Linked DNA regions of Homo sapiens: region 1 is linked to region 2. Evidence: fine-mapped expression QTL. A gene starts in region 2. The other region holds a variant in brackets. All regions are shown on one strand. Distances are between the middles of the regions. Region 1 overlaps STXBP5L (syntaxin binding protein 5L). Region 2 holds the start of POLQ (DNA polymerase theta).

Region 1 (16,164 bases), 140 kb after region 2:
TAACCACATGTAGCTATTGAGCAGTTGATACGTGGCTCGTCTGAATTGAGATGTGCTGTAAACGTAAATTACACACTGGATTCAAAAGCTTCATTGATGAAAGAATTACCTAATATCTTAAAAAGATATTAAAAGATGATCTGTTATAGCACTTCTGGTAACTAAGCTCCTTAAGATATGAGTCCAAACCAATCCCAGTTAAACAGATTTCCATGACAGATTCAGTCAAATTAAAGGGTGGAGTTGAGGAAGAGGTTCCAACTGACTTTTCTGATGTGCTACATTGTCTATATTGTATAATAACAAGTAAGCCAAGAAAAGAAAATTAAAGAGGTGTAGTCACTTCAGGTAGGAAAAGAGAAAGAGCAAGTCAGTTGCTAACTGCTAGGAAACAATTGCTCTTATAACAGAAGAAAAAAAGACTTTCTTCTATGCAGGACACTTTAATAAAGAAATAGTGTCGGGTAACTAAAGGTGGATCTCACAAAAAGTGTCTCTTACAGCCAAGTTTGAGAATTCATACAAAGATAAGCCTCTTCTATTTCTCCTCTCTACTCTCAAACTTGCTTTTCTGAGTCTGGGTACTTAGGATCTAAGTAACCACTGGCTAGCTACCTGATATCTATCAGAAACCCAGGACTTGAGAAGACTGGGCTCAGGAGAGTTACCTTCTGATAGGGTCTGGAAAGATCCTGGGAATATACTCAGTATGGGAAAATGAATGAGGCCAGGTGCATGCTAATTTGTAGGATTCATTTCTTTAAACCATAGAGCAGAGTACATACCATTGTTTCCTAGCTACACTTTATGTATATGTATTATTAAAATCATATCAAAATTATTTCCTTTTCAGTTATTTTTGAGGATCCTCAGGAACACATGAAGAATTTCTACTATGACACAATATCAAAGTAACCATTATCATGTCAAGCAGCTTTTATAAAGGACAGAGGAAGACAGATACCATTTATCAATGACTCAATGTATGTGTGTGAGAGATACACACATTTACACACATACACAAATAGACCTTTTTTCCCCCCCAAATCTGAGGCATGTATGGGAGTTAAATCATTTTCAAACAAGATTGAAATGACCTTATCAGAAATTTCTAAAAACAGTTTGAGAAAGGGGGAACTAGATAGAAAAGAATCAGAAATACATGAGAGAATGAACAGACCATAAAATGATTATTTTTATTCAAAATTTTCTCCTTTACTACTTTCCCTTGACCTACAAATCTGCTCATATTTTCCCTATCTAAAAAAAAAAACACTCTCAAAACCTAGTTTCACTCTTAAGCGACTTTCCTGTCTCATCTCTCTTTTAACCACAAAATTTCCTGAAAGAATAATCAATACCAGGGGAAAAGGGCCCATAAATATTTATGATAGTAAATATTTTAGGCTCTCTAGGCTATATAGTCTCTGTTGCAACTATTCAACTCTGCCCTGTAGTGCAAAAGCAGCCATAGTCAATATACAGAAACATGGGTGTGGCTGTGTTCCAAAACCTTTATTTATGGGCATTGACATTTAAAATTAGTATAATTTTCACATATCATGAAATATTCTTCTCTTTGAGTTTTTTCAACCATTAAATATGTAAAAACCATTCTTAATGCTTGCAGGCTGTACAAAATCAGATAGGGGAATGGAGGTCGATTTTGTTTTGGATATTAATTTGCTAAACCCTGATCTATACCACTGCCTCTATTCTTGTCTCCTTGAAAATTAGCTTTTGTTTCCACCATGCTGCTAAGATTTGCTTTCTCAAAGATCATTAATATCCCACCAGTTGTGAGATCTACTGTTTTTTTCTTGTACCCAAATTCTTTGACCTCTCTGCTATATTTTACTACCTCTTGACAACCTCTTTTGTTTTAATATTCTTCTCTTTTTATTTAATGAAGTTATACAATTCTGGTCCTTTCCTATCTTTCTAATAACTTCTCAATCTCCTTTGCTGCATCTTATTCTTTCTTTCACTACATAAACGTAGAATACCCCCAAGTTTCTATCCTCAGCTCAGTCAATTTCTTGTTTCTTTTTATGCTATCTTTTTTATTATCTCATTTCCTGACATAACTTTTACTGATGCATTTACATAGATGACTTCCAAAGCTGGACCTTCCACATATATTTTTCTAAGAGTGCAAATCTTAAATTTATTGCTAAACCTCTGCTGGATGGCTTATAACACCTAAAATTTCAAATATTTATTCTCAATTTATTATTAAATTTCTCTTTATTGGCTTTTTCAAATCCTTCTGACTTTCCTATATGCTAATAACATAACCGTTATCTAAGTTCAAAAAAATTTTTAACCTTTAAACTCTCTTCTAACCTCGAGATTTAACAACTTCCATTACTGTTCATAACCAATCAGCTTTGCATTCAATAAGTTTCCCTTACACCTGTTTCCTCGTTGCCTTCAATACAGACACCACTTCAGTTCAAAAGCCTATCTCAACTTCTCCCTCCCTGTGTATGTCCTAACACATGGCTAGAGAAGGTTAATTACCTGCTTAAAACCCCATTTCCTATTAATTGATAAATGTCAAACTCAGCCTGACATTCAAGGTCGTCAACAATTTGCTTCAAACTACCTCTCCATGTTACTGTCCTCCCAACAACTCTTCATTTATAATACATGTTCAACTATGCTGTGACTTTGAACTCTGGGAACTTAGTTTGTGGCTAGAAAATTCAATCCCATATTTCCTCTGTTGGAATTTATATTTTCTTTTTGTTATAATGTCTGTGTATCTATCTTATCTCCCAAGTTAGACAGTGAGTTTCTTAAGGGTTAGGACCATGTTCTACTAATTTTTATATCCTTCACAGGCCTAGCACAGTGCTCATCTCAATGATTTTTGGAAATAAGTGAGATATTAAAAAAATGACAGTGACTTCTATATAGTATACGTTTATGAGCTATTTGCTGAATTCATAAAATCATTAGGTAATTATTTTTGTGTCTCGTAAATTTTATTTCATTTCACTAACAGTAGAATGAAATCTCTTGACCAATATTTTATTTTAAAAGTATCTGATAACTTTTAATTATCAGACTGGCCTCACTTTTCCTAGACTTGCAACCTCAGGCAAACTGTGTAACTTTATTAACACATGTAAAATGGAGGATGCAAATAATAGTTTATTTTCCTATGTCCTAGAGAAGTTCTAAGGATCAAATGAAACTCTGTATGTAAATTTCTTGGGTGAAGTATCAAACACAGGAAAAGTAAAAGTTAACTTCTTTTCTATTTAGCTTATTCATCTTTTATTTCCAGTGCTTAGTGTAGCATCTGGGAGATATGCTCAATAAATATTTGTTGAATGATTGAAAAATCATTCTTTTCTTAGATTCCTTCAAAACAATTAAAAATATATTTCACTCACAATGCCAAGCATTTTTAGCAGAAAAGAAAAACCAAAACAAAACACAAAACCCCCAAACTCTCATCAAATCGTTGAACAATAAAACATCCAGAAACATAATGAAACAATAATCTCAGTTTGCTTCTTGATAACATCTGCACATAACACATATATTTTTTAGGATTGTACCTTGCTGGTATTGTTGTGATTACCAGATAATTTATAAGAAGGCAAGTACCTCATTATCATGATATGTCCGTTAGCACAAAAGCATGCCAAGCAGGCACTGCTACACATGACCACCACATTTGCTTGCAGTATAAAAGATGTCTCCGTGATGTTATGAACATAAAGGCAAGTCTGAGAAGGCAGTGAGAAGACTTTGGCTTGTTTTTCTGAGCAGATTATTGTATACTGATGATCTCCTATTTCTTGGGATGCAGAAGATGAGTTCATTACCACTTTCCTTCTCCAAGATTTTTCATTTTCATCTATGTTGTTTGGATCCCTCCAAACTTCATATGGCGGTTGCATTAATCCACCCATTCGGTCCATACAGGAGAATGTTAGCACAGCTCCTTTCAATGAGAGGAATGTACCTATAAAAACAATTGGACATCACTGACATGTCAAATTCATTCTAAAGCATCTATAGGGAATTAAAGTTTTACATTGTGATAATTTATACCTATAGAGTCATAATATTGCCCTAATGTATATGAATTTGTAGATTTGTGAGCTCATCTGTTATAATAAGTTGGAATCATAGAATGTTAGGTCTAAAAGGAACTTAAGACGTCAACTGGTCAAACCCTCTCATTATATTAAAAAAGAAGAAAAAACAGACCCAGAAAGATTATGAAAGTTGGGCCAGGTCACACAGCAAGTTAGGTCACAGCCTAGATTAGAACTCAGATTTTTCTGATTCCTACCCCACGATTCTTTCATTATACTATATAGTCCCCCTTAAAGTCCTTTTATAAAAAAGAAAATTTTAAAAATGTACATATTTTATTTATTGAAATAACTTCAACTGAAAAATAATCACACAATCTTATTTGATTTTCTTATTTCATAGACTAATTTGCTAGAAAATGCTTGATTTTTCTTCAAAATCAAACAAGAAGAAATTTCAATATCTGGAATTCACGGTGGCAATTTTAATTGTATGAAAAAGACAAAACAATTACCTTCAGCTCTTAGGTAGGCTTTTGCATCTTTACACAGAAAGGGGTTTTACTCACCTGGATTCTCCAAGGTTGACAATGTATGCCAGATTATTGCCTATAGGTGATTTTCACCAGTCTTGGAGGACAATATACTATAAAGCTTAGGAGGTAGTTTGGGCTCTATTGATCTTTGGATATTTCCAGAATCTTCCCTAAGCAGTACCCTATTAGCCCTTTCTTTCCTTTGTCCTTTTACATCATGCAGAGAAAGTATGTTAGCTTAGACTGATAATGTCTCAAGGGTGTACATGTGACAGAGACTTGAAAAGGGAAGGGTGACAGATAAAAGTATATTCATTTAGAAAGTACTTACAAAGTCCTTAAAATTTATCAAATTGAAAAGAGTATATTGGGATGATCTAATATCTTAGTTGTGTTTTTAAATCCACTTCAAAACTAAGAAATCTATAAATGTATATAAGGGTAACGGCAGAGGCTAGGGGAGTAGAGGTTTAGGTGCTGCAGTTTAAGGGTTAAGGGATAAAAGAACATCTCTCCCAATCTCCCATGAAGGAAAAATGCCAACAGCTCTGAAGAATGATTTAATTAAAATTAACCTAGGATTGATCCTGCTGTTCAGTAAAACCACATTTTCCTAACTACCTGCCATAGAAAGACTTTTCTAAGTATATCTTTTCATCCTTGATTTAGAGATGGCTGACAGTAGGTTAAAAAGACAAGAAATCCACATTTTGAAAGCCATTTTACTTATACTCATTGCATACAATCTTCAGCATCAAAATGAATTTCTCAATAAGCTGCCCTTGCCAAAACAGCTGCTTTGTTTCTTAATTTTTAGTCATAAATGCTTTGATTATATTCTGTTCATTAGGTTTATACAGGGTTTAAGTTTTCCAAACAATGTATTATTAATCGTTTAGAATTCTTTCTTTAATCTTTTCCAACTGGAAAAAACTCAAGTAAATCTAAATCATAAGCAGCTACTACTTCAGAAATACACTTACAAAGTATGCTTAAACTTATGGGCTTCAATAATAAGATCTTAATTAATTAGGACTTTCCTCTTAAAGAAGAACTCACTGGCTAGGAGTGTACTTTACTCCAGCTTTCCCAAATCACCAGCCTTGCCGACTACAACCTTCATTCAATCAATACATACAGTATCAAGTACATTCTATGTGCTCTAGGCTCTATTTTAGTCATAGTCAATATAGTGGTGAATAAAACAGACAAAAGTCCCTGCCTTCATAAAACTTACTTTCTAGGGTAGAGATAGATAATATGTCTGATAAATAAGTAATCATATGGGATATTAGATAGTAATGAGTACTAAGGAAAAAAAGCAGAAAAGAAGATAGGAATTCTTGAAAAAAGGTAGATAAATTTTAAATAGTGTTATAGACTGAATGTTTGCATCCCCTGCCAACCTCTTGTAAAAAAAATCATATGTTAAAGCCCCAACCCCCACTATGGATCTATTTGAAGAGGGAGCCTTTAAGGAAATAATTAAGATTAAATGAGATCATAAGGGTATGGCTCTAATCTGATAGAATTAGTGTCCTTTTAAAAAGAGATACCAGAGTACATGCTCTCTCTCTCTCTCCCCCTCCCTATGTGTACACAAAGGAAAGGCCATGTGAGCACACAGCAAGAAGGCAGCCATCTGCAACCCAAAGGAAGAGACCTCACTAGACATCTGCCCTGCTGGCACCTTGAACTTAGAGTTTCAGTCTCCAGAACTGTGAGAAAATAAATTTCTGCTGTTTAAGCCACTGAGTCTGTGGTATTTCATTATGGCAGCCTGAGCAAACTAATAAAGAAGGGAAGGCTTCTTTTCATCATCCTGTGGGAATTAGGGTTCAGGAAACCAGCACAAAATACTGATATTCTATGACTGTTGTGAATAATAAATTATCCTTTGTCCCTGAGCCAGGAGTTTCATGTCTTCTATCAGCATCGAAACTGGCAACCTAACTTTATTAGCTTACAAGTAGAATAAAATCTCAGATTCTTTATAGGTCTTGACTTTCTAGAATGCCAAGAAGATTCATAGGAGGTAAGATCAGAGAGATAAAGTAGAGCCACATCATGTTGGTTCTTTCAGGACATGGTAAAGACCTAGACTTTTACTTGGCGTGAGATGGAAGGATTTTGAGAATGGAAGTGATGTAATCTAACTTTCATGTAACAGAATCACCCTACCTCCTGGGTGTATCCTAAAGGGAACCAAGGCTGGAAGCAGGGAGAGCAGTGAAGAGGTTAGTGTATTAGTGTGCGTGAAAAATGGATAGAGGCTTGGTTGAACTGTGTGGTAATAGTACAGATGGTGAGCAATGTCAGAATCTGAGTGTATTGTAAAGGTTGTGCCAGCAGGATTTGTTAACAAATTGGATTTAGGGTATGAAAGAAATATGGGGGTCAAGGGTGATTCCAGT[G/A]TTTTTGACCTGAGAAACTGGAAGAATGGAATTGTCATTAATAGATGTAGAAAAGTGTGAGAGGAATGAGAGGAATACCAGGAGCTCAGGTTTGAACATGTTAAGTTTGGGATACTTACTAAACATCCAAATGGATATCAAATAGCTGGATATATGTTAGGAATTTGTGGAGAGGTCCAGACTATAAATATAAATGTATGATCCATCAGACATTTAAAGGCATGAAGCTGGCTGAATTCATCTAGTGCTTCAATATAAAGAGAAAAGTTTCAAAGAATCAGTCTTGGGGCATTCTGGTTTAAGTCCACTGAAATGGAGGAGGAACAAGCTAAAGAGATTGAGAAGGAATAGCTAGAAGGTAGGAAGAAAATCAGGTGAAAATAGCACTCTAGAATTTGAAGTGTTTTAAGGTAGGAATGGTAGCCTGTGTAATACGTTGCTGATATGTCAAATAAGATGTTTCCTGAGAAATGACCAAGAATTCCTATCTCCTTTTCTGCTCTAATTTTTTCCTTAGTACTTATTAGTGTCTAATATCCCATATAATTACTTATTTATCACACATATTATCTATCTCTACCATAGAAAGTAAGTTTTATGAAGGCAAAGACTTTTGTCTGTTTTATTCACTACTATATTGCCCATGACTAATACAGCCTAGAACCCATTGTTTCTCTTTTTTAATGGAAGATATAACAATATATTTATATAATGATTCAGTAGAAAGAAAAACATTTATTATAAAGGAAACAAAGGAAAAATTGCTGGATTGACTTTCTTAAGTAGGTGAAAGCAGGTAAAGTCTAGTATATAAGTGGAGTCTAGTGTACAAACAGAGTCTAGAGTATAAGTGGAATATAGTGAATAACTACCACACAGTTCACACAAGCCTCTATCCATTTTTCATCCAGACTATTGTATTAACCTCTTCACTGCTCTCCCTGCTTCCAACCTTGATTCCCTTTAGGATAGGCCAGGAGATAGAATGATTCTGTTAAATGAATCACCTAGTTAGAAGCTTAGTTTAGTAACTGTAACAGGAGAGAATATGCAGGCCATGAAGATACAAGCAGATAGGTTGGTAGATGTGATGATAGCTGTTGAAGTTTTTATCTGATTGTTTCAATTTTCTCAATAAAAGAGGACACATGGTGATTGCTGAGATTGAAGACAGAAAAGCAAGTTTTGGAGATTTAAAGAGACTAGAGAAAATACGTAATTGTTAGCCAGGCATGATGGCATGCCTGTAGTCCCAGCTACTCAGGTGGCTGAGATGGGAGGATCGTTTGAGTCTAGTAGTTCAGGGCGACAGTGAGCTATGATTGCACCATTGCACTACAGCCTGGGTGACAGAGTGAGACCTCATCTATACCAAAACAAAACAAAACACACACACATACACACACAACCAAAAGGATAAACAAGAAAATATGCAATTGTTGTCCAGGAGTGCAGGGGCAAGGACTAGGAAAATATAGTATGATTACCTAGCAGCATAAGAGCCCACTTGAAGTTAGTGATGATTTATGGTAAAATGAGACACTTTAGTGTGGTTATGTATTTTTCTCTAGCCATATTCAGCTACATGGGTCTAGAAATAGGATAGGTAGAGTTGAATTTAATCAGGTTTGAGATTAAGCTGAATAAGTATGACAAAGCAAACAAAGCAAAAAGGAGGCAAGAGAGTTGACAATGCATGAAAGAAAAGCATTATAGAGCTTGACTGTGAAATTAAAGTTAGAAAGGGGGAACATGAAGGGGGTGAATGACAATGAAAATGGTAGGATCAATAGATTAAGGTTCCAGTGAGGCTGAAGAATTATATTAAAGTTGGAGTCTTAAGGAGCCTGAGATATTTGCTTTCCTTTTCCCTTACATACATTGTTTAAACTTTAATTGTCTCTCAACTTCCACGGAACTTCTCAATTCCTATCTAGAATGTAAGCTCTTTGAGGACAGAAACTTCGTATGACTTCGTCATTACTTTATCTTCAGTGCTTATTATAATATCTGGACATGTCATGTGCTCAATAAACATTTATTAACTTCCTGACTACTCCAGTTCAGTCTTAATTATGGATTTTTAAACTTCTATTTTATCTTATATACTCAAGATCAGCTACACAATTTGTGGGCCTAGCACAAAATGAAAATGCACTAGGCCTACAAATTATGGGGGACTTTTTGTTCAAAAATTGGGAGAACTAGCACTTTTCTGACCACTTTTTGTCTTCAAGGTTTTATTTGAAATCTCTTATGTGCTCATTGTCCTCCACCATTCTCTTTGTCACTGTAAATCTAATTCCTTTTTTTTTTTTTTTTATTATACTCTAAGTTTTAGGGTACATGTGCACATTGTGCAGGTTAGTTACATATGTATACATGTGCCATGCTGGTGCGCTGCACCCACTAACGTGTCATCTAGCATTAGGTATATCTCCCAATGCTATCCCTCCCCCCTCCCCCGACCCCACCACAGTCCCCAGAGTGTGATATTCCCCTTCCTGTGTCCATGTGATCTCATTGTTCAATTCCCACCTATGAGTGAGAATATGCGGTGTTTGGTTTTTTGTTCTTGCGATAGTTTACTGAGAATGATGGTTTCCAATTTCATCCATGTCCCTACAAAGGACATGAACTCATCATTTTTTATGGCTGTATAGTATTCCATGGTGTATATGTGCCACATTTTCTTAATCCAGACTATCATTGTTGGACATTTGGGTTGGTTCCAAGTCTTTGCTATTGTGAATAGTGCCGCAATAAACATACGTGTGCATGTGTCTTTATAGCAGCATGATTTATAGTCCTTTGGGTATATACCCAGTAATGGGATGGCTGGGTCAAATGGTATTTCTAGTACTAGATCCCTGAGGAATCGCCACACTGACTTCCACAAGTGCTAGTTGCAATAGTAGGTAGGGGATGCTCCTAGAGGTTAGGAAAGCAATCGTGGTGCCCTACAGAATTCAGAAGAAACAGTGGAGATTTGAAGGGAGACACACAGCTAAAAACTGATTTGTTATTTGAAAAATGAACAGAGCAATGCATATACTGCCTGTGAACCCGCATACTGAACACATGCAGCCAGGCAGCCTCTCAGGGGGCAACCATTGCTCTCATTTATTCTGTCATATGTTAATACTGCCTGCTCTTGGATTTCATATAAATGAGCAAAACATATAAAAAAAAAATTGGGAGAAGAGGTACCATTGAAGGTTGCAAATTATAAAGCTTTTTTCTTTCTTCTGTGGTCTATCTCTTTAGTGTTTTTATATTTGCTATTTATGTTCTATGTAAAGGAAAGTTAACTTTTTTTATTATTCATAATATTCTATATAAGAACATTTAACCTCTATTTTGAACTGTAGCAAAAACACAATAGCTAGTCTCCAGAGCTATGAAATGATTATTCACAGGGAGTTGGCCAGAAGAGACAAACCAGTCAGTCTCAGGAAGGTTGGAAGGTGGAAGACAGGGTCATTCAAGTCCAGACCAGACCTGAGGGAGCACATTCTTAGGTATGGGGATATCTCTTGCAGCTTGAGAATGCTTGCAAGATGACTGCAGACTTTCACAGGCATCTGAGGGTCTCACCACATGACTTCAGTTACTTAAGTACATTTGAGTCTGATGGCTGCTAAGTTTCTCCTCTTTACAGCAATAAGACCCCATCCTGCCACCTCAAACCATAGAAGAGGGGTGACTCCCAGAAAGTCTTTAAAACTGTTTGCTAGGAAGTGCTAGCTACCTGGAACAGGACTGGTTAAGACTCTCAATCTGAGACATGGCCTCTGGTTGGCCGATCACATGCTAGAGTCACCAAGTACTACCAACTCAGGATAAGGATGGCTGCTTCCATGCCCCAAAATGTCACCAGGCATGTGCCTGACCCCGACCACCTCTATGTATACTCCAGGCCCCAAAAGCAGTGGAAAGTGAAAGTGGAATGCCTCTCTCCCAACAAACTAAGTCATCGCCTGGGTGAGAGGTAGGTGGGAGGCAGACTGCTCATGAGCAGAGGCTTCAAGCCCCTGGTGCATGCTCCATTGTCTCATTGGTCTTTACTTACAAAGCATACATCAAAAGATAAAATTATTAAGAATTTTAAGACTTTAAGAGCAGAGGGCCTTCTGGGAGCAGAACCCTGTGCATCAGTAGACAAAAGGGACAAGTAAGGTTTCATTTTTGTAGACTCAGCACATCTGGGAACTTGCTAAAAATGCAAATTCTCAGACCCTCCCTCAGACCTACTGAATCAGAAACTTTGGGGGCAGGGCCCAGTAATCTGTGTTGTAATGAATGCTTCAAGTGATTTTGATGCAGACAAAAGTGATAGGTGTTGGAAACAGGCCCCCCAAAATCTGGCCATAAACTGGCCCCAAAACTAGCCATAAACAAAATCTCTGCAGCACTGTGACATGTTCATGATGGCCGTAACGCCCACGCTGGAAGGTTGTGGGTTTACCAGAATGAGGGCAAGGAACACCTGGCCCTCCCAGGGCCGAAAACTGCTTAAAGGTATTCTTAAGCCACAAACAATAGCATGAGCAATCTGTGCCTTAAGGACATGCTCCTGCTGCTGTTAACTAGCCCAACTTATTCCTTTAATTCAGCCCATCCCTTCATTTCCCATAAGGGATACTTTTAGTTAATTTAATATAGAAACAATGCTAATGACTGGCTTGCTGTTGATAAATACGTGGGTAAATCTCTGTTCAGGGCTCTCAGCTCTGAAGGCTATGAGATCCCTGATTTCCTTCTTCACACCTCTATATTTCTGTGTGTGTGTCTTTAATTCCTCTAGTGCCACTGAGTTAGGGTCTCCCCAACCGAGCTGGTCTCAGCAAGTGGCATCCATCATGGGGGCTTGAATCCAGGTTGAAGGGTCACTGGAGCAATGGTTGGAGAACATGGAACTAGCTGGAGGACACCCGAGTACTCTTAAAGCAATCCCCATGGTGAGTAAGAAGGGGAGCTCAGAAGCATCAGGGTAACAATGGGACAAGTGTGGGGTCTGGTTCATTCCACCTTGGAACTTTTTCACACTGATGAGGAGGAGGAAGGAGAGTATAATGAAGTACAGAAGAGGTTACAGACCAGGCTTATTTGCCAGCTAAAACTAAAGTGGAAAAGGAGGGAGAGGTTCATCCCTACCCTTCTGCACCCCCTCATTATTATTTTGAAGAAAAAGAGTGGCCTGACCCTCCAGATCTTTCTTTTCCGGAGGACACTGGGTGAAAAGTAGTTGCCCCAGTGTCTGTTCGAGCAGTGCCTCGAGCGACCACTCTTAGTTCTATTCAGGTAGGAATTCAGCAAGCTAGAAGAGAGGGTGATTTAGAGGCTTGGCAGTTCCCTGTTAGAATACAGCCCCCAGATCAGCAGGGAAATATTATAGCTACATTTGAGCCTTTTCCTTTTAAATTCAGGAAAGCACATTTAGTTGATTATATCAAGGCCTGTGATGGTATTGGAGGTAATCTGCATAAAGCTACTTTGTTGGCACAGGCAATGGCAGGACTGAGAGTGGATAAAGGAAATACTCATTTCCTGGGGCTTGTTTTAACTGTGGGAAGCATGGTCATACTAAAAAAGAATGTAGAAAAAATCAGCAAGTCAGGCCGCCAGATAAGGGAAAAAAGAAAACTGCTGAGCCTGAAATATGTCTAAAATGTAAAAAAGGAAAACATTGGGCTAAGCAGTGTCACTCTAGGTTTGATAAAGATGGGAACCCGATTTTGGGAAAAGCCATGAGGGGCCCATCCTGGGCGCTGTTCTAAACTGGGGCATTTCCAGCTCAGGCCATTCCCTCACCCCTGTACAATATCTGTCCCCCACCACAGCCGGTAGTGCCGCAGTAGATTTATGCTGCACAAAAGCTGTGAGCCTTCTGCCTGGGGAACCCCCACAAAAGGTCCCAACAGGAGTCTGTGGATCCTTGCCAGCGGGGACAATAGGATTACTTTTAGAAAGGTCTAGTTTAAGTTTAAAACGGGTACAAATACATACAGGAGTCACTGACTCAGATTACAATGGGGAAATTCAAATTGTTATATCTACTTCTGTTCCCTGGAAGGCAGAGCCAGGAGAGCACATGGCACAGCTCCTGATTGTGCCGTATGTGGGAATCGGAAAAAGTAAAATTAAACGAACAGGAGGATTTGGAAGCACAAATAAACAAGGCAAAGCTGCTTATTGGGTAAATCAAATTACTGATAAACGTCCTACCTGTGAAATAACTATTCAGGGAAAGAAATTTAAAGGTTTGGTAGATACAGGAGTGGACATTTCAATCATTTCTCTACAGCACTGGCTGTCTGCGTGGCCAATTCAACCTGCTCAATTTAACATAGTTGGAGTTGGTAAAGCCCCTGATGTATATCAAAGTAGTTATATTTTGCATTGTGAAGGGCCCGATGGACAACCTGGGACTATTCAACCAATTATAATTTCTGTACCTATAAATTTATGGGGAAGAGATTTATTACAGCAATGGGGAGCACAAGTTCTAATTCCAGAACAATTATATAGCCCTTAAAGTCAACATATAATGCATGAAATGGGGTATGTCCCTGGTATGGGACTAGAAAAAAATTTGCAAGCTTTGAAAGTACCGCTTCAAGTGGAAAGACGATGTTCCCACCAAATATTAGGATATCATTCTTGATGGCGGCCATTGTTAAGCGTCCAGAACCTATACCTTTAAAATGATTAACAGATAAGCCAATTTGGATAGAACAATGGCCGCTAAGTAAAGAGAAACTGGAGGCGTTAGAGGAATTAGTTACTGAACAATTAGAAAATGGGCACATAGCTCCAACATTTTCGCCTTGGAATTCTGCAGTTTTCGTAATTAAGAAAAAATCAGGTAAATGGAGAATGTTAACTGATTTAACAGTCATCAGTTCAGTTATACAACCTATGGGAGCATTACAGCCAGGATTGCCTTCTCCTGCTATAATTCCTAAAAATTGGCCTTTAATAGTCATAGATTTAAAAGACCGTTTCTTTACTATCCCCTTAGCTGAGCAAGAATGTGAACGGTTTGCATTTACAATTCCTGCAGTAAACAACCTGCAGCCTGCTAAGTATTTTCATTGTTTCACAGATGGGTCTAGTAATGGTAAAGCTTCTTATTCTGGATCGAAAAGTAAAGTTTTCCAGACACCCTATACTTCAGCTCAAAAAGCGGAGCTTGTAGCTGTAATTGAGGTATTGACTGCTTTTGCTATGCCTATTAATGTGATTTCTGATTCTTCATATGTGGTTCATTCCACACAGTTAATTGAAAATGCTCAGTTACAATTTCATACAGATGAACAACCGATGACTTTATTTACCCAATTGCAAACAGCAGTTAGAAGTAGAATGCACCCTTTTTACATCACTCACATTAGGGCTCATATACCTCTTCCAGGACCTTTGACTGAAGGGAATCAAATGGCTGATCACCTAGTTGCTAATGCAATATCTAATGCTAGACACTTTCACAATTTAACCCATGTTAATGCCTCTGGTCTCAAATGCAGATACAGCATTACCTGGAAAGAAGCTAAAAATATTATCCAGTGATGCCCAACTTACCAAATGGTACATTCTTCATCTTTTACAGGAGGAGTTAATCCTCGAGGATTGGAACCTAACTCTCTTTGGCAAACGGATGTCACACATATTCTCTCATTTGGGAGACTAGCATATGCACATGTATGTGTGGACACCTTTTTTCACTTTGGGCTACATGCCAATCAGAAGAGTCTCTGCCTGTGTTAAACATCACCTTTTGCAGTGTTTTGTGGTGATGGGCATTCCAGCCTCTACTAAAACAGATAATGCCCCAGGCTATACTAGCCAAGCTCTAGCTACATTTTTCTCCATGTGGAATATTAAACACATTGCTGGTATCCCATACAATTCTCAAGGACAAGCCATAGTGGAAAGAATGAATCTTTCCTTAAAAGAGCAGTTGCAAAAGCAGAAAGGGGGAAATAGAGAATATGGAACACTGCAGATACAACTGAATCTGGCATTATTAACTAAATTTTTTGAGCCTGCCCAAAGGCCAGATGTTATCAGCAGCTGAACAGCATCTACAGAAACCAGCTGCAAAGAGAAGCAGAACAACTGATTTGGTGGGGAGATCTGATAACAAAAAGTTGGGAAATAGGTAAAATAATAACTTGGAGTAGACGTTATGCTTGTGTTTCTCCAGGCCAAAATCAACAGCCAATTTGGATACCATCAAGACACCTGAAACTTTTTCATAAGCCAGATGCCGAGGAAGAGATTCTGGGAGGATCCCGAGGACCCCTCGGTTGCAGCCATGTCGAGACTGACGCTGAGGAGGACCCCAACTGTCACAAGCAACACCTGTCGAACACAGCCACCCACCTGGGGACAGATCAAGAAGCTGTCACAGCTGGTGGAAGAAAACCTGAGGAAAGCGGGACAACCACTCACAATGAGTAATTTAATGGTAGCTATGATAGCGGTATCACCATTGCTGTGAGTATTCCTTCAACAAGGGCTGACACAGAGAACAATTATACTTATTGGGCATATTTATCAAACTTGGCTGGCAATAATGCCTAGATGTAATCACTCTATGATGCAGTTGCACATGCTTTCTGATCTCAGTATTTATCATAATAAATCTGCTCCTATAATTGAGGCATACCACCCTCAAAAACCTATTTGTAAACAAAATGGAACCTGACCAGAAAAAAATGCAAGAATATTTTATTAATGACTAAAGGTTTAGCAGAAACAATTTAACATATGTATCATACTCATCTGTAAGACTATGCTTTTGGAAAACTCAGCCTTAATTAAAAGTCATAATTTTTAATTTCTTATTTGTTTGAAAAAATTTTCATCATTTTGAATTTATATTTCCACAGTCCAAGATTATTTCTTCTGTTTCAGACTTTTCTTATGTGAAATAGAAGAGTTTTGTTTTGTTTTCCGTTTGGTTTAGCCTGAAAAAAGATGTAAAATTGCAAATACCTCAAAACTACATGCCCAAGTAAGGATGTGTATAATTGACAGTCTTTCAATGTTTGCCAGTCACACATCTAAAGGGTTACTTACTATTTCTGCTCTATTAAGAAAAGAACTATATATCTAGTTCATTGAATTTTCACAAAGAATGATAATAGA
Region 2 (16,164 bases):
CTTAAATATCAATATGAACAATTTTGCTTTTTGAAATTAATTGCTAATTCGCTTAGCTCCAACTGTCCCCTCATCTTCTAACTCATTTCTTTTTTTTTTTTTGAGATGGAGTCTCGCTCTGTTGCCCAGGCTGGAGTGCTGTGGCTCACTGCAACCTCCACCTCCTGGATTCAAGTGATTCTCCTGCCTCTGCCTACTGAGTAGCTGGGATCACAGGCACCCACCACCACACCCGGCAATTTTTTTTTTTTTTTGTATTTTTAGTAGAGACAGGGTTTCACCATCTTGACAGGCTGTTCTTGAACTCCTGATCTTGTGATCCACCCACCTCAGCCTCCCAAAGTGCTAGGATTACAGGCGTGAGCCACCACTCTTGGCGGTTTTTTTTTTTTTTTTTTGACAGAGTCTTGCTCTGTCGCCCAAACTGGAGTGCAATGTCGCCATCTGGGTTCACTGCAACCTCTGTCGCCTGGGTTCAATCGATTCTTGTGCCTCAGCCTCTTGAGTAGCTGGGGCTACAGGCGCGCAGCAACCATGGCCAGTTAATTTTTGTATTTTTAGTAGAGATGGAGTTTCACCATGTTGGCCAGGCTGGTCTTGAACTCCTGAACTCAAGTGATCCACCTGCCTCAGCCTCCCAAAGTGCTAAGTCACTGCTCTCAGCCTTAATTTTTTTTTTTTTTAATATAGAGACAAGAAGAGGAGCTTTCATTATTCTCTGCATGTCCCACTCAACTCTCCCTCCAATTTCTCTGATTTAGACTGGGTCTCTAAGAATGCTGTGGACAGGAGAACTTGAGCATTTTTCTACAGAAGACCAGGACAGGGACAGAAAGCTACTGGCAAGAGGGAGCACAGGGTGTGGCAGAGAACAGTGAGAATGGCAGAAGATAGTTGGGAGGAGTGAGATGTGTTCTGGTCTGAGCAACAGGGGAGGAGCACAATAAGATGGAAGGGCTGAGGTACCAAAGGAAAGCAGAAGATGCCCACCTTTGCTGTGAATTTTACACAGAGAAAATAATATATTTCTTTTACAAATTAAAGTATAAAATAGAGTAGGTAACATAAAAGAGTCTGAGGCAATGGAATTACGATACAAATTGCTTCTGTCTATTCTCTCTCATTGTGTTGCAAACCCTGTGCAAGTGCCTGCAAGTGCATGATCTTATGGAGTGTGCGAGGTTGGTACATTACTCCCACTTTGCTGATGAGATAATCGAAGCTTAGAGAGCTGAAGTGAGTTGAGATTAGCTTTGTCCACCTTGATATCACAGAAACACATTTAGAAAAATGGAAGGAGTAAAAGAGGAGAACCAGAGATGGTCAAAGGGGAAAAGGTAGCAGGGAAGTTGGAGGAGGGATGGTAGATAACAAATGCATAAATAGCATTAACCATAAGAGAAAAGATGGATAAATTCAGCACCATAAGTATCAAGAACATGGTCTCAGCTGCAGACTAGCTTCAGTCTCATTTCAGGAGGAAGCTCTGTAGCACGAATCTGCAGCATTGATAGCAGTCAGGCCCTGGCCGAAAGTGTAGATGGTGGTGCATAGGCCACACAAAGACAGCTTCTGTTTGTCCCTGAGATATTCCTCCAAGGAGGGGGCAGCTGTGAGTTATCAACCAACATGGCAGCCAGGGGTCGGGTCAAACAACCAGTAAAAGGGATCTGGGAAGGGCAGTATCATACACTGTAAATGTCTGTTTGTAAAAAGATGGTTAAAAGACTAAAAGGTGGGAATTCTGCTTCTGGGACGATGAAGTAGATATGCTTTCCCCCGTTCCTCCTGAGAAGTGGAACTAAAAGCCCTGACCATTATATGTAAACAAACATATGAAGATTCTGAAGGCAGACCAGGCAAGGACCTGGGGAACCAAAAAACTAAACTTTTGTGAATTGCTTGGGTTTTGTTTTTTTGTTTTATATATTCTAAACGGGACACTGGAGAGGCCAGCAACCTGGAAATGCCAATGAACACAAACCAAAACCAAAACCAAAACAAAACAAAACAACAACAACAACAACAAGAAGTCACAAGAAAATCCTAGTTTTCTCTAGTCCAGGGACAAAGGAAGGTCAGCCAAGCAAGAGAGACAAGACAGAAAACATATTTTTTTTTTTTTTTAAGATGGAGTCTCACTGTGTCACCCACGCTGGAGTGCAGTGGTGCGATTTTCCCCACTGCAACCTCTGCCTCCTGAGTTCAAGTGATTCTCCTGCCTCAGCCTCCAGAGTAACTGGGATTACAGGCACACACCACTACGCCTGGCTAATTTTGTATTTTTTGTAGAGATAGGGTTTCACCATGTGGGCCAGGCTGGTCTCAAACTTCTGACCTCAAGTGATCCACCCGCCTCGGCCTCCCGAAGTGCTGGGGTTACAGGGATGAGCCACTGCCCCCAGCCAACAATACATTTCAGTTGTTTATAAATTATGCAGTCAAAGGAATTTTACTATAGCAGCCAAACTAAGACAGGACTATGTATGAATCTGGAAGTTATGGGTTTGTGTTCTTACATGTTCAAGTAATTTAGTCTTTTTATTGGGATTCATTCTTTAGTTTTACTACCTTCAAGTTGGCTTTCTGATGTTTTAACTTAGACTTTTGAAGTTATTTCAGTTGTGCTTTCATCTGCATCTACAAGTAAGCTATTTCAACTAGTTCTTTGAGGCATTGTGGAAAAATAGGTCTTTGTCAGAGTTCCTTGTTAATTTAAGCCTCTTATTAAAACTTTCTCACTGAAGCCACCTGAATTCAAGTCAGCCTCATCCCTTGTGTGCACTGGTGGTTTTCTTTTCTTTTCTTTTTTTTTGAGATGGAGTCTCGCTCTGTCACCCAGGGTGGAGTGTAGTGGCGCGAACCCAGCTCACTGCAACCTCTGACTTCCGGGTTCAAGCGATTCTCCTGCCTCAGCCTCCCAAGTAGCTGGTATTACAGGTGCGCGCCACCAGGCCTGGCTAATTTTTTTTGTATTTTTAGTAGAGACAGGGTTTCACTGTGTTAGCCAGGATGGTCTTGATCTCCTGACCTCGTGATCCACCCGCCTCGGCCTCCCAAAGTGCTGGGGTTACAGGCATGAGACACCATGCCCGGCCTTTCTTTTCTTCTTTTCTTTTTTTTTAGTAGAGACAGGGTTTCTCCATGTTGGTCAGGCTGGTCTCGAACTCTCGACAACCTCACGTGATCCGCCCGCCTCGGCCTCCCAAAGTGCTGGGATTACAGGTGTGAGCCATCGCCCCCGGCCGCACTGGTAGTTTTCAATTCCAGCATGTCAGAATACCTGGGGAGCTTTTAAGACATGTCAGTGCCTGCACTCCATCCCAGATCAATTAACTCAGAATCTCCAGGGGTATTATAATATTTTAAAAGCTCCCTAGGGATTCTAATGTGTACCACTGGACTTGTTTTAGCTGAGAGTCACTGGATTTCAAACACAAAATCTCCTTAATTAGCATCTCCTTTGTTCTGAGTACCTCAGACCTAATCAGTACTACCCTTATTCCACGTTCGTTGTTTATTTTCCAGCTCCTTTCTTTCTTTGCCTTTTTGTAAATCACTTCCACTCACATCACATGAGAAACAGAGTTTTCAGTCTGGGTAGATAATTCTGTTTTAGTCAATTCACAAATGTAGTTTGAGTAATTTTTGTTTTTGTTTTTATTTTTATTTTTGAAACCGGGTCACTCGGGGGATTGCAGTGGTGCCATCACAACTCACTGCAGCCTCAATCTCCTGGGTTCAAGCAATCCTCTCTCCTCAACCTCCCTAGTAGCTGGGGCTACAGGCATGGGCCACCACTCCTGGCTGATTTTTAAATTTTTTGTAGAAATAGGGTTTCACTATGTTGTGCAGGCTAGGCTCAAACTCCTGGGCTCAAGTGATCTTCCCGCCTTGGCCTCCCAAAGTGCTAGGTTTATAGGTGTCAGCCACTGTGCCTGGCCTAATTTGGGTAAAATTTTATTTTTCCATATAACTTCTGAAATTTCCATGGGAAATCACTCTTGATAATTTATGTAAAGTTAAAAAAAATCAGATGATGTTTTTGAATGTACATCAATTATTGTTATTTGGGGGCTTTTTTTCTTCTGTTTTTAGCAATATTAAACTGAAAAAAAAAACCACTTCGAGTATGGCACATCTTCCTTAAAATTCTAAATATTATATTTTAAAAACTTTTAAAATTCATAACTAAGTTGATTAAAATCAGGGAATCCTTTGTAGGACAGAAATGTCAAACATATTCTAGAGGATTAAGAAAAGCACTAGACCCAAAGTTTTCCATAGTGATGCCTGCTGTTCCCCCTGGAGTCTAGAGCATGGATTATGGGCTCTGTTGTTCCCAGCAGGGTGAGAAGTAAGATCTAAAATTCTTTGCATAGGCCAGGTGTGGTGGCTCACACCTGTAATCACAGCACTTTGGGAGGCCAAGAGGGGTGGATCACTTGAGGTCAGGAGTTCAAGACTAGCCTGGCCAACATGGTGAAACCCCATCTCTACCAAAAAATACAAAAGTGAGCTGGGCGTGGTGATGCCCACCTGTGGTCCCAGCTACTCGGGAGGCTGAGGCACAAGAATCGCTTGAACCTGGGAGGCGGAGGTTGCAGTGAGCTGAGATCGCACCGCTGCACTCCAGCCTGGGCAACAGAGTGAGACTCTGTCTCAAAAAAAAAAAAAAAAAAATTTCTGCAGAAAGCCAAAACCCAAGAAAGGCAGCACTCTCAGTGAATGAAGCAGAGAAATATCTGTCCTGCAGATTGAGACAATAAGGATGCAAGCCTGCACAAACCTGACTCTGGGTATCTAGCATAATTCTACTACTTACATATTTTTTAAAAAGCCAAAGATTAAATTTAAAGTGATCCACAATTGGTATGTCTCCCAGGTAACTGGCAGAAGTATGTGTAAATTTTATTTGGAGGGGTTTGCTCAGACCTTGAAGAATTTTTTTTTTTTTTTGAGACTGAGTCTTGCTCTATCACCCAGGCTGGAGTGCAATGGTGTTGTAGCAGGATGAGCTGCAGACAAAACTTCTCAGACACCGAGTTGTAGAAGGAAGGGCTTTATTCAGCTGGGAGTATCAGTGAGCTACTATCTCAAAATCCAAGCTCCCCAAATGCACAGTTTCTGTCCTTTTTAAGGGCTCACGACACTAAAGTTTTCGTACGAAAGGATCGTGGTTGACTGAGCAGTCTAGGGGATACGTAACAGGGGTTTCATGCACTGGTATTCAGAAAGAAACAGAACAGGGCAAGGAGTTTCACGATGTTCTTCTATACAATGTGTGGAATCTATGAATAACATCAGTTTCTAAGTTATGAGTTGATTTTTAACTACTGGGTTGAGGCCTGGCAGGCCCAGGCCTGGTTTCGGGCGTGGCGCCGGGCTGCTGGTCTTTGGTTTTACTTCCTTGTTTTTTTTTTTTTTTTTAAAAAAAACAAGTACTGAGTATAATACAATATAAAACAATATGAGAGGGTCTCTCTCTTCCCAATATGAGAGGGTCTCTCTCTTCCCTCAGTGTGATCCTGGCTCACTGCAACCTCTACCTCCTAGATTCAAGCCATTCTCCTGCCTTAGCCTTCCAAGTAGCTGGGACCACAGGTGCACCACTAGGCCTGGCTAATTTTTGTATTTTTAGTAGAGATGGGGTTTCACCATGTTGGCCAGGCTGGTCTCGAACTCCTAACCTCAAATGATTCGGCCTGCCTTGGCCTCCCAAAGTGCTGGGATTACAGGTGTGAGCCACTGCACCCTGCCTCCTTGAGGAATTATCACAGACAAAATTCCAAGGAACACGAGTTTAGACACAATACAGATGGAAAATGCTTCTGGTATTTTAATATTAGTTATTATGATAACTGTTAGCATAAACATCTTTAATATTTTTGAGAAATAGCCTTCTATTCTCCATTTTCAGAGTTTTTCTGAAAAAATTAGAAATGTTGAACATTTAAAATAAATTATATATTTTAAAATATTCTCTAGGCTTTTGGTAGGATGACATAAAACTTTCAATTCCTTTCTAATTATTTTTCTGATTTGATCATAGTTCACCTAATAATAAAAACAGAATAGCTTTGTAAGAGATTTTTCTAGTTTAGCCTTTTCCCAGCAAAATGCTGAATTTAAATTGGGGGCTATATTAGAACATCTAAATATTTTCTCTGAATAGTATTTATTATGTGCCGGCACTATTCTAAGTACTTTACACATATTGACTTACTCAGTCCTCAAAATAACCAAATAGGTTGTTACAATTATTATCTCTATCATACAGATGAGGACATGGAGGCACAAAAGGGTTACGCTGTAATCCCAGCACTTTGGGAGGCGGAGGTGGACGGGTCATTTGAGGTCAGGAGTTCGAGACCAGCTTGACCAACATGGTGAAACCCTGTCTGTACTAAAAATACAAAAATTAGCCAGGTGTGGTGGTGCAGGCCTGTAATCCCAGCTACTTGGGAGGCTGAGGCAGGAGAAACGCTTGAACCTGGGAGGCAGAGGTTGCAGTCAGCAGAGATCAAGCCACTGCACTCCAGCCTGGGCGACAGAGTGGGACACTCCGTCTCAAAACAAACAAACAAACAAAAAATGGGTTAAGCAAGTTGCCCAAGATCTCACAGCTACTAAGTTTCAAACCTAGACTGACTGACTCCAGAGTTGCACTGTTAACCCTTAAGTTACACTGCATCTGAGAAAGTTCTTTCTTGGCTGCAATCTAGGGGTCTCTCTCTCTTTTTTTTTTTTTTCTTTTTTTGAGACGGAGTCTTTCTTTGTCGCACAGGTTGGAGTGCAGTGGTGCGATCTCGGCTCACTACAACCACCGCCTCCCAGGTTCAAGCAATTCTCCCGCCTCAGCCTCCAGAGTAGCTGGGATTACAGGCACCCGCCATCATACCCGGCTAATTTTTTGTATTTTTGTAGAGACGGGGTTTCACCATGTTGGCCAGGCTGGTCTAGAGCTCCTGACCTCAGGTGATGCACTCATCTCGGCCTCCCAAAGTGCTGGGATTACAGGCGTGAGCCACCACGGCCGGCGAGATCTCTTTTATTTCTTTAATAGTACTCTTCATTTCTGCCCAAGCATATGGCACACTTCATTAACTGACTTGTTTAATGTCTGCCTTATTCTCTAGACTCTTTCTCTTTGAGAGCAGGAACCATTTTATGCCATTTCACTGCCATTTACCCAGTGGCTAGCTTACAGTAGATACTCAGTAAATAGTTGTTGATTGCGTAAAAGGCCAAGAGAAAAATGTTTCATTCACGGAGTAATGTCGCCATCTCGTGGAACTTTAGAATATTGTCATTTAAATCAAAAAAATGTTTTCACGGAAGGAATTGATGGTTCGAATGCTATTTTCCAGATTGTATTCGAGTGTTTTTTTTTTTTTTAATTGGACTGGACCTTTTGAGATTTTTAGTGCTCTAGAACTGCACAGCCTCTTCAGGTCAGGCTTAGGGCCTACTAGTTTTGCTTGGTGAAATGAATTATGCAACTAGGTAATGAATGGTCACCGTTTTACGTTCAGAACTCGTTCGCTTCTACCTTTACAAAAGGGACAACACAGATGCATTACTAAGCTCTTGGCTCATAACGATCCCTGGGGTATATTCAGAGCCCCTTCCTCGCGGCGTTCATATAGTGTCTCAGGGGTCTGTCAGCCAGCAATCCCCAATTCCTCATTACATATTCCTCACAATGCATGCTGGCTAAAATGGAAATTGTGTTCAGAAATAGCCCTGCCCTACCATCATATACTAGGAGAAAGGAGGAAATTATGCTCTATTAGAAACCCTAGGCTATCTTGCATAATGCTTCTCAATCTGAAATAATTTTTTACAGAATACCAATACGTTAAGAAGAGCTACTTCCCTGATCTACCTATTATGGGCAGCCCATTTTATGAAGTTAGCATGGCCTTCCTATTCAAACCAGAAATGGACAAAAGGAGAAGGAAGGCTTTTAGGTCAGTATGGTTATAACTGTAGATTCTGTATTCTTCCTCTTTAATCTATCTCTCATATTAACCAACCAGGAGGTTGGAGGCCGGAAGTCTTAGACGCCAGCGAGAGCCGCTCCTTCCCCACGAGTCTATGGCTTTCGGGTTACTTAAGCCACGGAGAACTCTATGGTTCCGGGGCGGGCCGGGAGGTTTGAGTTTGAAGACTGGCGGGAAGATGTCCGCAGCTGTTGCCAGGCCAGGGTTCTCCCGAGAGGGAGGACGCTGGGACTGTGGCTTGCCCTGATCGGCCGAGAAGAGTTTGCCATGAATCTTCTGCGTCGGAGTGGGAAACGGCGGCGTTCAGAATCAGGCTCAGATTCGTTCTCGGGAAGCGGCGGTGACAGCAGTGCCAGCCCCCAGTTCCTCTCCGGGTCCGTGCTGAGCCCGCCGCCCGGCCTTGGTCGCTGCCTGAAGGCCGCAGCTGCAGGTGCTCCAGGAACCCGGGAGGCCGCGGGCAACGGGGGCAGCTCCGCCGGGCCATGGGTCGGGAGGTGTCCTCACCCCACGGGACTTGCTTCGTTGCATACCCCATTGGGCTTCTACTCCCCTTCTCTGTGACTGGGGCCTGGTGTGGCAGGTCACTTTCTGTTCAGACATACGCGTGTTTTCAGTGATCGCCTGGTATTAATGTTCACGTGGCTTCTGGATCTTTCGACCTTTAGAGAAACAACTTCCTAGTTAGCTTCATCCCATCATCTGTTGGGCGGCTCGTTCCTGGTAGTACCCAGTACTCCTTACAGACCCTTAAGACAGGATTGTTGGGCCTGGAGTACGGCACAGGCTGTTCGGCGTCCAGGGGAAGGCTGGAAGGGATTCGTAATGAGATTGGTTGGGTGTCCCGTGGATGTCGACCCAGTTTTTTAAAATCGTTAGTTGTGCAGTCGTCATGGAACTAAAACTTACTATAAATAGAAACTCACCTAACTTAGCTTTGTAATGCTTGCATATTGCCCTCCTCCCCCAACTACACCCGTAATTCCAACACTCTTTATCTACTGTGTATTGCACGCTTTTTTGTTCGTTTGAGGCTTTTAAGGAATTTTTATTATATGCAGTAAATAACAATTTATTACTTTTCTATACATGGTCAATTTCTCATAAGATTCTTGAAGTCAGGATGTGCTTTAAAGAGCTTCATTTCAACACATAGGAATTCCAACACACGGTGAAGGGCTAACTGTAAAACTCATATATTAGAAGTAAATTAAATTTTAATTTTTTCTTTTTCCTAAAAGGAGAATGCAAGCCTACAGTTCCTGACTACGAAAGAGACAAGCTACTATTGGCAAACTGGGGACTTCCTAAAGCAGTTCTGGAAAAATACCACAGTTTTGGTGTAAAAAAGATGTTTGAATGGCAGGCAGAGTGCCTTTTGCTTGGACAAGTCCTGGAAGGAAAGAATTTAGTTTATTCAGGTATCCAAATTTATGTAAACTAATTACTATTTTTAAGATATGAATGTAAAGAATACTCTATTGAGGTAGTTGTGGTTCGTTTAAAAGGTGAATGAGGCAGTGCTTTATAACTAGAGAAAATCGTACAATATGTGTGAAAAGTGGAGTTTTATTTATATTTAAATTACAAAAGTTTTATTGTTTGACTGGGGTGGAGGGAAGCAAGAAAAATGACAATTTAAAGAGTGGGCAATTCTGCCTGCCATTATTCTCAACAAACATATATCCCAGTGAGTGTGCAATGGGAGATGTAAATCTGCCCTTCCCCTGTTTGATCCTGGTTGCTTTTCAGGGTATGAGCATTATCATTACATGTTTGTTAATTTACCTTTTTTTTTTCTTGAGATAGAGTTTGTCTCCAGGCTGGAGTGCAGTGGCGCTATGTGGGCTTACTGCAACTTCCACCTCCCAGGTTCAAGTGATTCTCCTGCCTCAGCCTCCCAAGTAGCTGGAATTACAGGTGTGCGCCACCAGGCCCAGCTACTTTTTTGTATTTTTAGTAGAGATGGGATTTCACTGTGTTGGCCAGACTGGTCTTGAGCTTCTGACAAGTGATCTGCCTACCTTAGCCTCCCAAAGTGCTGGGATTATAGGTGTGAGTCACCGTGCCCAGCTATAGATTGACCTGTTTGTACAGGGTTGTATATACAAACAACAAGTAATATACTTTATATAAAATTTTTATGGGTTTTCTTTTTTTTTTTTGAGATGGAGTCTTGCTCTGTCGCCCAGACTGGAGTGCAATGGAGTTGTCTCGGCTCACGGCACCCTCTGCCTCCCGGGTTCAAGTGATTCACCTGCCTCAGCCTCCTGAGTACCTAGGATTACAGATGCCCGCTGCCATGCCTAGCTAATTTTTGTATTTTTAGTAGAGACGGGGTTTCACATCTTGGTCAGGCTGGTCTCGAACTCCTGACCTCAGGTGATCCACGCACCTCAGCCTCCCAAAGTCCTGGGATTACAGGCATGAGCCACCATGCCCGGCCCTATATGGGTTTTCATGGGCAACTATGGCATACACAATTTTTAACGCATGCTTACTACACTGACTTTAAATCTAATCATTTGGTAAGATGCAATTCCTTTGTGTCAGTTTTCTCCGAAATTATGAGTCACACAGATTTTTCATTATGGCTGTAAGGACGAATTAAATAATTATCAGCAGATATAAGTTCAGGCAGTGGAATTAGACTGGTTGGATTTGAAAACTATCACTTACTGGCTATGCAGCCTCACAGATTACTTAGGAAGAGTGAGAGAGTGTATATGTGTTTGTGAGTATGTGTGCCTCGGTAGTACTTAGAGTTGATTAAATTATTTCATATATAAAAGCTCAGAACAGTTTTTGGCACATAGAAAGTACTTGTATTGTGAAAAGGCATTACAAAAAATAAAATACTTGTAAATGCTAAGAAGTCATAGTTAGTGGCAGTGGCATAATTGCTTGACCATTTCAATTGCTTGAAACTGAAACTTGGGTATCATTCAGAACTCTGGTCACCAGCTTATACAATTAATCACCAAGTCCTGGTGTCTGTTACCTCATATATCTCTTGCTTCTGACTCCTTTCTGTTTTTAGGTCCATTACCTGGTACAGCTCATTATCATCTTTCTTCTAGATTATGCAATAGCTTTGAAACTAGTTCATTCTTTTCCTCTGATCTTGCCCTGCTCCTGCAGCCAAAGTGGTCTTTTTTTTTTGATGGAGTTTTGCTCTTGTTGCCCAGGCTGGAGTACAATGGCACAATCTCAGCTCACTGCAACCTCTGCCTCCCGGGTTCAAGTGATTCTCCTGCCTCAGCCTCCGGAGTAGCTGGAATTACATACAGGCGCCCGCCACCACGCCCGGCCCCAAAGTGGTCTTTTTAAAAAAAATTTTTGTTTAAATTTTTTGTAGAGATGGGGGTGGCACTGTGTTGTCCAGGCTGGTCTTGAACTCCTGGGCTCAAGTGATTCTCCCAAAGTTTTGAGATTACAGGCATGATTCACTGTGCCCAGTCCAAAGTGATCTTTATAAAGTACAAATATGATCTTGTCACTCCTTTTCATAAAACTCATCAGTCACACTGCATTGCTTTCAGGACAAGGTTTAAACTCCTTAAATGGTGGGATTATAAACCTTTCTTGTGGCACTTTCATATCTCTTCTTTTATACCCCTGGGGTACTTTATACTCCATGCTTACTAAATTACCTTCTGTGTCATCTGAACATGCCAGGCTTTCTTCTAGGCCTTTGTACCATATGCTGTTTCTTAGGCATGGCATTCCTTTCCTCTTCCTTTCTTTTTTCTTTTTTTGGAACAGAGTCTCACTGTATCACCCATGCTAGAGTGCAATGGCGTGACTGCAACTCACTGCAGCCTCCTCTTCCTGGGTTCATGTGATTCTCAGGCCTCAGCCTCCCAAGATGCTGGGATTACAGACATACAACACCTTGCCCATCGTGGCCTCCTCTTGCTTTCTTCCTTACCTTCTCATAAATTCTGTTTCATTTCCATAAGATTCCTTGCAACTTTTTTCCTTCCACTTCTTTTTTTTTTTTTTCCTTTTTGAGACGGAGTCTCTCACTGTCGCCCAGGCTGGAGTGCAGTGGGGTGATCTCGGCTCACTGCAACCTCTGCCTCCCAGGATCAAGCAATTCTTGTGCCTCAGCCTCCTGAGTAACTGGGATTACAGGTGCCCGCCACCACGCCCAGCTATTTTTTTTTTTGTTATTTTTATAGTAATAGAGATGGGGTTTTACCATGTTGTCCAGGATGGTTTCAAACTCCTGACCTCAAGTGATCCCCCGGCCTTGGCCTCCTAAAATGCTGGGATTACAGGCATGAGCCACCATGCCCAGCCCTTTTCTTCAACTTCGATCATAGCTCCTATCATAATAAAATTGTTCATCTACTTCCTCAAAGCAGGCCTTTTACCCATTTGGTACTTAAAGGAAAGGATCTTTAGGTATAAACTAGGTACTCAGTAGTATTCATCATATTGCTGATATAAAGATTTATTTACTCTGTTTTTAGTTGAGACTATTAAGACAGGTGGTTTAAAGTAAAGGGCATTTCAGGGTATAAAGATTTTAAGTGCTATTGGGCCCTTAGTGATTGGTTAGCCTTAGGCTCTGTAGTACTACACATGGCTTAAAACATTTATTAATGAATTGTACCGAATATTACTTTTTTCTTATAATCTTGTGGAATAATCATGTTTTAGCTCCTACAAGTGCTGGGAAGACTCTTGTGGCAGAATTACTTATTTTGAAGCGGGTTTTGGAAATGCGGAAGAAAGCTTTGTTTATTCTTCCCTTTGTTTCTGTGGCTAAAGAGAAGAAATACTACCTCCAGGTAATGTTTTTTACTAAGTTTGAAATAGTGAAAGGCTCATTATTGGCAGTCTTGGTTTCATTCATTTGAAATAGAATTATAAAAGCAAGTGGAAAACAAAGTTTCTTCATTGTGCCCTATGTAGCTTTAAGAGGCTACTGCCAAAAGCATTAAAAATTTACAGCAAGGGGCTGGGTGTGGTAGCTCACGCCTGTAATCCCAGCACTTTGGGAGGCCAAGGTGGGCGGATCATCTGAGGTCAGGAGATCGAGACCAGCCTGGCCAACATGGGGAAACCCCATCTCTACTAAAAATACAAAAATTAGCTGGGTGTTGTGGCGCACACCTGTAATTCCAGCTACTCGGGAGACTGAGGCTTGAACCTGGGAGGTGGAGGTTGCAGTGAGCCGAGATCACGCTATTGCACTCCAGCCTGGGCAACAGAGTAAGACTCTGTCTCAAAAAAAAAAAAATTAAAAAAATTTACAGAAGGAAATTAAAAGAAAATTATTATTGCATTAAGGAGAAGGGGCCATCAAATCAAAAGAATAATTGGTGAAAATTGTGTAAAAATTTGTAAACCTTTTCTTAGGAAATAAACAGAATATTTAAACTAGCATATAAACACGCACATTAAGAATCAGCATTTAACTGAACAGTAGGACTAGACTGAAGCATAGAAAGGAAAGAGTGTTTAAGGAAGTGTATCCTGCCCTAATTGAGGACTATTTAGGAATATTTAGGGGATGAAGGTCAAGATCCATTGGTGCTTAGGTAAAGCTCCAGGTATGTGATCTGTTCCTCTGTTCTGCAAAAATGACTAATAGTAGTTTACATCAATATGATGCTCACAGTTTTTAGGGCATTTTCACAAATACAATATTTTATTAAATGGAATAAATTTACTGTTGTGATTTCTGCAGTGAAAAATATGTGCTTTTGAAATGGAAAGATTGTTATACTGATTGTTAAAGAAATGTGGGTTCTAGTCCCAGTTTTGCCACTAACTATGTCTTTAGGCCGGGCATATAACTGGCTGGGCCTCAGTTTTTTTATTTGTAAAATTAGGATGTTAACCCTTAGCCCTGTGGGTTAACTTAGTAAACACTCAGGAAAATTTTATTGAATGAATAGCTCTAAATTTCTATGGTTCTATAAATCTTTTTAATAGTTATTTCAGAGGCACAGTAGCCAACAAAGCTGGTCATACATGGTAACATCACTCAACTTAGACCCAAAGTAACGAAATGATGAAAGGATCCTTTTTATTGAAAGGTATGTTAGTTAAAAGTTAAACTAAAAAAAAAAAAATTATTATTAAAGTCCCACTGAATTTGACTTTTAAAAACTTTTCTTCCAATTACATTAAAAAATTGGTCATTAGTAGGATAATGAGACTATTTTCCTCATGAAGTATAAATTTGTTTCTTTAAGTGTTATAGCTAGTTTCTTGCTATTTATTAGATTAAAAATGTTAGTGCTTAAGGTAGTTTTTCTCCAATTTTAATTCCTCTAAATAGCTCTTAGAAGTTTTTAGATTATTATGCTGTCATTAAAATGGCATAATTTTATTTGACTCTTAACAGTTTTGTCAGTTCTAAACTTTATATTTTTAGTATATGATCTAAAAAGAACCAGTGTGTCCTGGCCAGAAACAACTGATGACAGTAATCTGGTAGATGTCTTTAGATACTTATGTCTATGTTCTGGGATAGAACCAGTTTATAACTCTTGAATTTCAAGTTTTTTCACCTGTATTGTTCCTTTTTACTCAATTCAGAGTCTGTTTCAGGAAGTAGGAATAAAAGTAGACGGTTATATGGGCAGCACCTCTCCATCAAGGCATTTCTCTTCATTGGATATTGCAGTCTGCACAATTGAGAGAGCCAATGGTCTGATCAATCGCCTCATAGAGGAAAATAAGATGGATCTGTTAGGTAAGAAAGTTAGAAAATAAGTAAATACTTTCTATTGCTATTTTTGATGGAATGAAGTGGAGCTGTTGTGATTTCTCTAGGTCCCATTTGTTTTCCTATTGTCTATTATCTACTTCTGGAGGCAAGGATTGGCATCTGTAATGTTAGGAACGCTGTGTTTATAAGTTTTGTGTCCTGCTGCTGTTATTGACTCCGTTACGTTGCATTTTTGTACTTTACAAAACGTAGATTATATCCTTGAGCCCTCAATAATTTCTCCTTGCTTCTTTCCTATCTAAACTCTACCAGGAATAGAAGGAGGCCTGCTGGGCCAGATCTGCCATTTTGTGGTTAGTGTATATGGGTTTTTGTTATTATATTCTGCTGCTATGATGTCTATTTTGGGCTTGGACCCAGAGTCTGTCATTTAGCATGGAAATGGTAGGAAGCTAAAGAAACTGACACTCTATTTGAGCTTGGGATTGTGGGAAGATTTTCTATCTTAATGCATTTTTTTGCCATTATGGAAAGGCCATTATGTAGAGGTAGCAACAGGAATAGAAGGATTGCAGCAGCAGAAGTAGCAAGAATATCAGCTAATTATTGAGAAGCTGGTGAACTTAAAAATACCATGGTAAAGTTATGGTAGGGTAGGGGTGGAGGGTGGGAATCAGACATAGGCTATGCTCCATAAAGCTTGGAGAGAGAAATTGCAATTGATTTGTATCAGAATTGTCTTATTACTTGTGACCCCATTGGACTTTAAATATTTGAGAGTTGCAATAGACTCGTAGTAAGTGCTATTTCCAATGTACCTAGCACAGTGCTTGGCACACGGCAGGCAGAATACTTTTTTTTTTTTTTTTTTGGTGAATGAATGAGTAAGTGCTAAAATAACTCATCAGACAGTACAATTTTGGAGACAGCTTATTGATAGGAAAAAGAACATCATGTGTCATTAGGAAGTTTCCTATTGTCTCCTTAAATTCCTTTTCACCAGAAAGTTGTCTTTTGGTGGGGAGAATTTGGGGTGGGGAGAATACCAGTACATGTGGAAACTATGTTGTTATGAAAATGTTTAACTAAAGAAAGTATTAGTTGATACTGAATTTTCAGTAATTCTTAAGAATTATTCCAAGTATATACATTGGTTAAATTCTCCAAGTAGTGAAGGACATTGTGATCATATTTATGTTTTGCAGTATGATGACTCACTAGCTTACCATATTAAAAAAAAACTCTTAAAATTGTCTTTTTCTTCTGGACCCTCTTATGTTTTTTCTAAGCTACTTTCTAACATGAGTATGTATGTTTTCCCACTGAAAAGTCAATACATTGAAAACTGACATAGATGTCTTTGATATTTCATTGTATGTTTATTTCGGTGAAGTTGCCAATTTAGAAGAGTAATGAGAGGCAGTTTTCCCTGGGTTTGTTTAGCCCTGAGTAAGCTAATAATTGATTTTT

The links.
Region 1: its variant is fine-mapped to the expression of POLQ in lymphoblastoid cells (GTEx, PIP above 0.99).

What each region holds. Positions count from the first base shown.
Region 1 is chr3:121,395,061-121,411,224 of GRCh38, reverse strand. It overlaps STXBP5L (syntaxin binding protein 5L), which reads right to left. Exons shown (of 27, transcript NM_001308330.2): 23 at 3,622-3,982. Among named protein-coding and RNA genes, the nearest start is that of POLQ, 140 kb to the left of the region's middle. The variant G/A (reference allele first, on the strand shown) is at 7,009.
Region 2 is chr3:121,537,987-121,554,150 of GRCh38, reverse strand. POLQ (DNA polymerase theta) reads left to right here and starts at 8,163. Exons shown (of 30, transcript NM_199420.4): 1 at 8,163-8,436; 2 at 9,245-9,424; 3 at 12,672-12,802; 4 at 14,562-14,718. The coding sequence starts at 8,274. RefSeq lists enhancers at 5,287-5,446, 8,015-8,309, 8,201-8,430.